Linked DNA regions of Homo sapiens. The protein of the gene in region 2 interacts with the protein of the main gene of each other region in a pairwise test. Each region holds a gene or a part of one and is shown on either strand. Other genes may lie near its edges. The genes, in order: PRSS23 and EFNA3.

Region 1 (3,807 bases), on a different chromosome or scaffold from region 2:
CAGTTCTGTGAGTTAAGCTGTATATAGCATATGGGTGTATCATTCTTTAGTAAATTACATCTACTTGTGAACTAAACATTGATTTCATTTTGACTTTGTGCCATTGTCTAACTTTGCAAAAAATCAAAATCAAGGAATCAAGGTGCTTCACAAAAGGAACATCTATTTTTTTAAAAAAATCCATTCTGGTCTTGGTGTTCAGTGAACTTTTTTTCACCAAGCTAAAGCAAAAACAAACAAAACCCCCAAATACCAGACATAGAAATGGAGACCTCCCTTCTTCCTCAGGCTAGATTCCTGTTAGATTCCAAAGAAAATTGTGCTGGAACTCAGAATTTTCCTGGCGGCTCTGCATCTCCTTGCTATGCATAGTATTTCTCATATGATTTGAAGAAAGCACTGTGGTTGTACGTTTCTTGAGTGCCTTATCAGAATTATCCTTCCAAAAAGCTCAAGAAAGACAAGCAGAAAATCCCCCAGAGAATGTCTAAGTGACAGTGCTCCATCTGAATATCCTTACAAATTGCTACAATGCAGGTTTACCTGGGGTGCAAGCACAGCAAACACGTGCTTGTAGTCCATTTGATTTTTTCTCCGATACATTTAGAAAGAAGTGCTTAGGCCGAGAGCCATAAAATAAAAACATACAATAAGTCCAAGTCTTTTCTGTATATGCTGTGATTTGATAATCATATTGATAAAACATGTGTAAAGGCCTTTATTGGAAGGCATGATTCTGATCCATTTTGCATTCTTCCAATTTTCATTTTTGCTATTATACCTAATTGTTTATCTATAACCTAGAGCATTCCAGCAAAAGCGGCCCTTTTAAAGCTAGAGGGAAAAAGGCCACACTGGTTTTCTTAAAGTAACTTCCAAGTATTTTCACTATAAATGAGAGAGAAAAGTTTCCAAATTGAAGAAGTACATAGCTCCCAGAAAGCACACTGAAAACTATGCAGAATAATTTTTGATCAGGCTGGAGGACTGTGCCAGGCTCCAAACAAGTGGTTATTCTGTTGTGACATCTGCCAGGCAATGCTTCCATTGTTCTCTGGAATTTAATTCATTTTAAATTACTCCATCCAAATGATAAAACATGAGATGTGCTATAATCCAGGGGTAAAATGCTATGATTGTTTTTAGTGTGGCCACAACTGTTTGCTGGGAGGAAATACAGCCTGTTCTAATTAAGCCCTGATTATTGTCTTCTGAAAAATAGCTAGTTCCAGAAATGTGAGTGAAATCCTGTTAAATGGAAGGGTTGGGATAAACACTCTTGGCCACTCTGGTATGACTTTAAAGTTGGGAGGGCCATATGCAAAGACTTCCTACAAAGTAGAGCAACAACCTTTGGAAAAGAAACTATTTTTGGAACTAAAAGCAGCTTGGGATACTGGTTTACTATAAGGTATAGTTTAATATGTGTATCAGTATAGTCAACACATCATTTTACTGTTCAAAGACTACCATGCAAATGCCTCCAAATCCAAAATATTCTGCCTAACAAATGCTGTCAAAGTTCCTAAATGGGAACACTGCCTTATGGAAGCATTAAAGATCAGGCACTGAATTAAAAAAACAAAAAAACCCACCACCAAGATGAATCTCAGAAGAAAACACACATGCACACATATAAGAATTCATATCTCTTGTATGCCAAATATTTAATATAAATCTTTGAAACAAGTTCAGATGAAATAAAAATCAAAGTTTGCAAAAACGTGAAGATTAACTTAATTGTCAAATATTCCTCATTGCCCCAAATCAGTATTTTTTTTATTTCTATGCAAAAGTATGCCTTCAAACTGCTTAAATGATATATGATATGATACACAAACCAGTTTTCAAATAGTAAAGCCAGTCATCTTGCAATTGTAAGAAATAGGTAAAAGATTATAAGACACCTTACACACACACACACACACACACACACGTGTGCACGCCAATGACAAAAAACAATTTGGCCTCTCCTAAAATAAGAACATGAAGACCCTTAATTGCTGCCAGGAGGGAACACTGTGTCACCCCTCCCTACAATCCAGGTAGTTTCCTTTAATCCAATAGCAAATCTGGGCATATTTGAGAGGAGTGATTCTGACAGCCACGTTGAAATCCTGTGGGGAACCATTCATGTCCACCCACTGGTGCCCTGAAAAAATGCCAATAATTTTTCGCTCCCACTTCTGCTGCTGTCTCTTCCACATCCTCACATAGACCCCAGACCCGCTGGCCCCTGGCTGGGCATCGCATTGCTGGTAGAGCAAGTCATAGGTCTCGTCTTTGACGTCACAGAAGCGATACACCAAATTGCCTGGTCGGTCATTGTCATAACCAGAGAAGTGAATTCTGCCCCCTGGCAGCTGCTTAGCAGGAGGGCTCACCCCAATCTTCATAAATTTTCTCTTGTGGGGCTTTTTGAGTTCCAGGAGGGCATAATCATAATCCATGCCGATGTCATTGGCATTGCCCTTGATCCAACCCTTGGGCACATGGGTGCGTTTCACCCGGATCCACTGAAATTTCATCTGCTCGGGCATGGCTGAAGTGGAGTCGTTGGCCCCTCGACCACCATCTTTAAACTTGGGCTTTAGGAAGCCCACTCGAAGCTTCTGGGTTCCTTTCACATAGGTTTTTCCATCGTGTATGCAGTGGGCAGCTGTGAGGACATGCTTCTCTGCCACCAGGGTGCCGGTGCAGCCCGTGGATAACTTCACTGATGTTGAGAAAGGGTAGTTGAGCAGGAAGTCCTTCCCAAAAATGCTGAACCTGCTGTCATAGCCATAAATCTGCCGCTTCCTTCGAGACTTTCCTGAAGACCCTGAGTCTCGGTGTTGGGCCCCATCTCCACTACTGCTGAGGATGTAGATGCCCACCTGCGTCTCTGTGCGGCTGCCATTGGCATAGAGCGTTTCATAAGACAGATATTGCTTGGCCTCTTCGTAAGTGGGCAGTGGAGTTCCCTTATGACACTGGGGTCCACATGAAGAAGATACTTCTAATTTGGCTTCGGCTCCAAAGTCTGGCTTGGCTAAATTGAGGGTAGACTGGGGCAAGACGACAGGGAGGCGGTATGCAGGCCAAGTGGGTTTCCAGGGGGCACTGTAAGGGCTCACTTGCCCAACAGCACAGAGCAGAAAGAAGAGAAGGAAGAGGAGCCCTGGAATCCCTGCCATGCCGAGCACTGTTCTGTAGAAACAAAGACAAGCAGGTCAGGAGGGCAAGGGCTGAACGTTCATTTACTGCAGACAGCAAAGCTCAGCAGCAGGCCTGTCATTGTTTCTGAGTCTTTGAACACTCCTCAGGAATCAGGGTGTGGAGAGGAATCCTTAGATAACGGTCTCACTTTCAACGCAAAGGCTCAACCTTAGGAAAGTTCCTGTGGCTGGGTGCCTGAAGTGAAATTGGGTGTTCCTTCCTTTCTATGTTTAAGATGTCCCTAATGATGGTAGACTGCAGAGTAGCAGGCATAAAGTCATTAGTCCCCTGGCTAACTGACTGACCAGCCCCAATTTCCACGTAATTTTGAGCCCTCTTTGTGCTTGATTCTAAACCTCCTCCTCTTCTACCTTCATGATGTCCCCGCCTTTCCCTCCTCCTTCTCTCATTCTCATTGTAACATGTACTTGGAAAATTTTCAGAGCAACTTGGTCACTCAGAGGGTCAATTTAAATTACATGGCTTACTGAGTGACTGAGACATCAAAGAAGGACAGCTCCACAGTGTCACAATTACCACCACTCCTGTGGTTTTTAAATGATGGTGCACTCGAGAAAGGGTATGAGATTTTTTGTTTTGTTTTGTTTT
Region 2 (4,291 bases):
CGGCGGCGGCGGCGAAGGTTTATTGATCTGCAGCGGCGGAGAGGAGCGAGAGACCTGCCGAAAGCGAGACACAGAGACGGAGTGAGGGGGAGACACACACCGACAAGGGGAGGGTGGCAGAGGCCGGATTCACTGAAAGGGGAAAGGAAGGGAGACACAGTGCGAGAGAGACGCAGAAACCGAGAGAGGCAGGGAAGAGAACGAGAACCGAGAGTCTTGGAGAACAGGAGAGACAGGCAGGCCAGAGAGGCCCACAGACGGCGGAGACGGAGACAGAGACGCAAAGGAGAGAAGCAGGGACAGGGAAGGGTGCAAGGCTGAGACTCAGAGACTGGGAGAAAACACAGAGAAAGACCATCAGGGACGTAGTAGAGCCTCAATAAATATTTGTTGAATGAATGCATGAATGAAAGAGAGATCAGCAACAGAAGCATTTCAGAGATAGGTCGAGAGACAGCTATATAGAAAGATGTTCCCGAAGCTCCTTGAGAACGGAGCAAATACCAACATCCTTGCTCAGTTCTGCAAAGAAATGAAACACAGGCCAGGGGGCATATATTTGGCCATCGGCCGTCCCAACCCCCCTCACCAAGTTCGATTCCCGGCTTAGGGGACTCCTCGACCTCATACTCTAATGCATCGCTCCAATACAGTCCCCCCATCCCTAGTTTCTGGGCCAGATTGGGAACAGGTCTCTCCTGTTCCACGGGACTAAATGGAAGTACTGAGTGGGGGGCAGAGGGCTAGGTCGCGGCCGGTGTGCAAGGCACAGTCCCCAGGTCTGTCAAAGGAGGCCGACGCACGTGACCCCCCCAGGAGGCGGGGTCGCAAGACCCTCCCCACGTGACCCCAAGGGGCAGAGACCCTCCGCACGTGACGGGAGGTGGGAGCCAGGAGCCCAGCTCACGTGACTAGGGGGAGGGGGCGCGGGAGCCTGTGGCTCGGTCGGCCCCGCCCCCAGCTCCCCGGCCCTCTCCATTCTCGGCTCCGGAGCACGTCGCTCTCACGATTTATGGGGCCGCGGCTGCCGCAGTGAGGGAGCCGGGGAGCCCGGGCGCAGCGGCAACAAAGGCCCGGGAAGCGAGGCGGGGGCGGCGGCAGCCTCCTGGCCCGGTGTGCGCCCCCTCCTACCTCTGCCGGCCCAGGCCCGCACGGAGTAGAGAGGACAGAAAGGAGGCTCCCGGAACCCGGGCTCCCCCACCCGCTCCCTGAGCTTTCACCTGCGCCCAGGTGTATGCGGGGGAGGGGAACCTGATCAACACCTCCCCCCACCAAACCTATTCCCGCATCCTCCCCGGCTCTGGCTTCCCCTAAGAACGCTGAGGTGCTCCAAGGGTGGCGGGGAACCCGGGGCCCCTCACCTGCGAGCTCTCCGTTCCCCGCCAGACTCTAGCGGGGTGGGGGGCGGACGTGTGAGTCTGGGGGAGGGGGCTGAGCTAGATAGAGCTGGAAAGTCAGCCCCCAGCGCCCCCCGGAGTTCTTGGAGTCCCGCTCCGGGGGGGAGGGGCCACGTCCCCACCCCCGAGGTTTCCATGGGAAGCGAGAGGGGGGCGTCGTTGGCTCATCCCCACCCCCAGTCTGACACTCCGGGCGCGAGGAGGGAGAGAGGGGGAGGCGCGGAGCCCCAAACAACAAAGAGCGGAGCGGCGAGCGGCAGCCCCTCCTCCGAGAGGTTGGGGGTCGCGGCCGCCCGGCCCTCCCGGTCCCCTCCCCTGGGGTCTGGCCATTTGCTCCCTGGTCGGTCGGTCCCTGGGGTGGGCAGCCAGAGGCAGTGCTGCCGCCACCGCCCGGGCAGGTGTGACAGTGACCCCCGCGTCCCCAGGGATCTCCCCCTACTAACACACAGACACACACTGATGTGGCCAGGGAGATACACACGGCGGCTTGGCGGGGAGGAGAAGACAAGGGCAGCAAGGACTGAGCAGAATGAGGACCCGGCCCCGCAGCCAGCACCCGGCCACCGCGCCACACACCCCGGGAAACCACACGGCCGCCCTGACACCCGCCCAGACCGCGGCGGCGCCAACAGCCACCCCAGCCCAGACGCAGCTGGCCGCGCGGACAGCGACCGCAGCCCCTTCCCCGACCCGCAGCCCGCTCCCACCCCCAGACGATCGCCGACGCAGACACACAAATCACACACTCAGACACACACGCACACTGACAGCCGCGCACGCCCGCTCACACTTGGAGCCATTCGCCGTCCCCAGCCCGGGCGTGTGTGTGCGTGTGTGACACACCGACATCTCTCTGCCGCCTTCCGTCTCGCCGGTACCCCACGTTCCCATCCTAACCAAGCAGCATTCCCAGGGCCCCCCAACTCAGCGACCCAGCCCTAGCTCACCCTAGCCGGGCTTATCCACACAACCAAGACAACCCATTCGCCTTCCTTCTAGGGAGGTGCTCGGTCGGACTCCCTGCCTCAGCTCTGGACCCCACTTTTAAAAGCAGGAGTCCTAGACAGAACCCCTGGAAGCCCTCATGGCCAAAAACAGGTCATCCCTGGGCCCCAAAATGCAGCGGCCTATCCCCAGCACAGCGCTACCCCCAAACCCCAGCCCAACTGGTGGGACTATGGGACAGGGGCATGCTATTCCAGCGGCGGGTGCGGAGAGAAGCCAAGATGGGGTGGGGGGCCCCTCCAGCAGCCTCCTCCACACGGCCCGAGCGCTCCTTACTATAGCCCAACAGCCTCTTCAGACACCCCCGAGTTTCCTAGACGCCCACAGAGTGCGTCCCCCTCTCCGTCCCCTCCCAGCCCCCAGCTCTGGTCTCCCAGGACTCCCACCCCGGGATCCCCCAGGACTTCTCGGGCCCACCGGCTCCCCCTCTCACTGAGACGGGACGCGCGGACTCCCAGGGTCCCCGACTCACTGCTGGTTGGAGCTGTTCCAGTACACCGCATGCCGGTTTCCCAGCGCCCCTCCGGGCCCTTGGGCCAGCAGCGGCAGCAGCGGCACGGGCACGAGCAGCAGCAGCAGCAGCAGCGGAGCCGCCGCCATCCCCGGAGCCGCCGCCGCCGCCGCCCCCCGACTGAGCCCCGCGCTCCCGGCTTCTCCGCTTCCCAGCTCCCTGCTGCCGCCGCCGTCGGCCCCCAGCCTTAGGCCACGCCCCCAGCCCTTCCCTCCGCCCTCCTGGGCGCGCCCCCGAAGCCCCGCCCCTGGCGCGCCCCCGACAGGCCCCGTCCCGCTCCGGTCGGGAGCGCGCGACGCGTGGGAGGTGGGGACCGTACTGCCCCCTCGGGAAAGACCAGCGCGTGCCTCGTCTCTCCTTCTTGAGTTCAGTTTGCTACAACTGGTCCTGGGTCTTTTGCTCCCCAGGCTGAATTTCCCAGAAGGATTTGGGAACCCAAGATAAGGATCTCGATCTCAGGGAAGCCCAATCATCTCTGGGAATGAGGGGAAGGAGAAGACTTGAGAAGAAGTTGGGGATCCAGGACCTCTTAGTAAGTAGGGCTGGACCCCTTCCCTTCTGAAAACTGTGGCCCTCTGCTGCGTCCATGCCCCCTTTTCCCGTGTGCATGAGGACTCAGGTGGGCACAGAAGGGTGGTGGAGAAGTCCTCAGCTGGCACCAAGGCTTTGACAGCTGGTGACCTGAAGCCCCCAGCTGAGCATGAGGCTTGTTTATCTTGGAGGCAGAGTAAAAGAGCTCAGCCCCTGAGAATGTCAATACTGGGAGCTGTAAGAGTCTTCAGTGGTCCAGAACCCAAGGCGCAGGAGGGGGTCAAGGAGAGAGTCAGCTGGGGCAAAGCAGGGTTCCCTGGACACCTACAAAGGATTCCTCACTGGCACTTAGGCAGGGCCCCTCCCGGGGCAGCCAGGGTTGTCCCCAGGGATTCTCACTCCTACTCTCAGAGACGCTGATCCTGAGTCAGAGGGCAGAGCACCTTGTGTTCCAGCTCTCACCACAGTCATTGTCCTCACAGTGACACCCAAGCACACACATCACACACACACATTCAGGAAAAAAGGCACAGTCACCCAAAGGCAGAGAACATAGAGACACAGGTGCCTGACACAGACATATGGACACACAGGTACACCTTCCAGACACACATAGGAAAGGGTACTATCAGACTGCTAGAGATCAGGCACAGAGACACCCAAGCACACACCTATATCCATCCACACACAACACACACACAAACCCACATGCATCCTGACACACACAGTTCCTTGCTCTCCTCTTCTCTCTTTCTAGGAAGTAGAAGTTCAGGAAAAGGGTTCAGAAACCAGACCTAGGGCTATCTGTCCCTTATCTCTTCTCTTTTGGAGAGGCCCAGACCAGGCG

What was found.
Region 1: the proteins of EFNA3 (region 2) and PRSS23 interact in a two-hybrid assay, tested with the Homo sapiens proteins (one large-scale study listed by BioGRID and IntAct).

Annotation. Positions count from the first base shown.
Region 1 is NC_000011.10:86,807,013-86,810,819, reverse strand, and holds part of PRSS23 (serine protease 23 precursor), read right to left. Parts: intron 3,190-3,807; 5' UTR 3,177-3,189; coding exon 2,025-3,176; 3' UTR 1-2,024.
Region 2 is NC_000001.11:155,077,653-155,081,943, reverse strand, and holds the start of EFNA3 (ephrin-A3 precursor), read right to left. Parts: upstream 3,108-4,291; 5' UTR 3,003-3,107; coding exon 2,875-3,002; intron 1-2,874. UniProt on the Homo sapiens protein: Cell surface GPI-bound ligand for Eph receptors, a family of receptor tyrosine kinases which are crucial for migration, repulsion and adhesion during neuronal, vascular and epithelial development.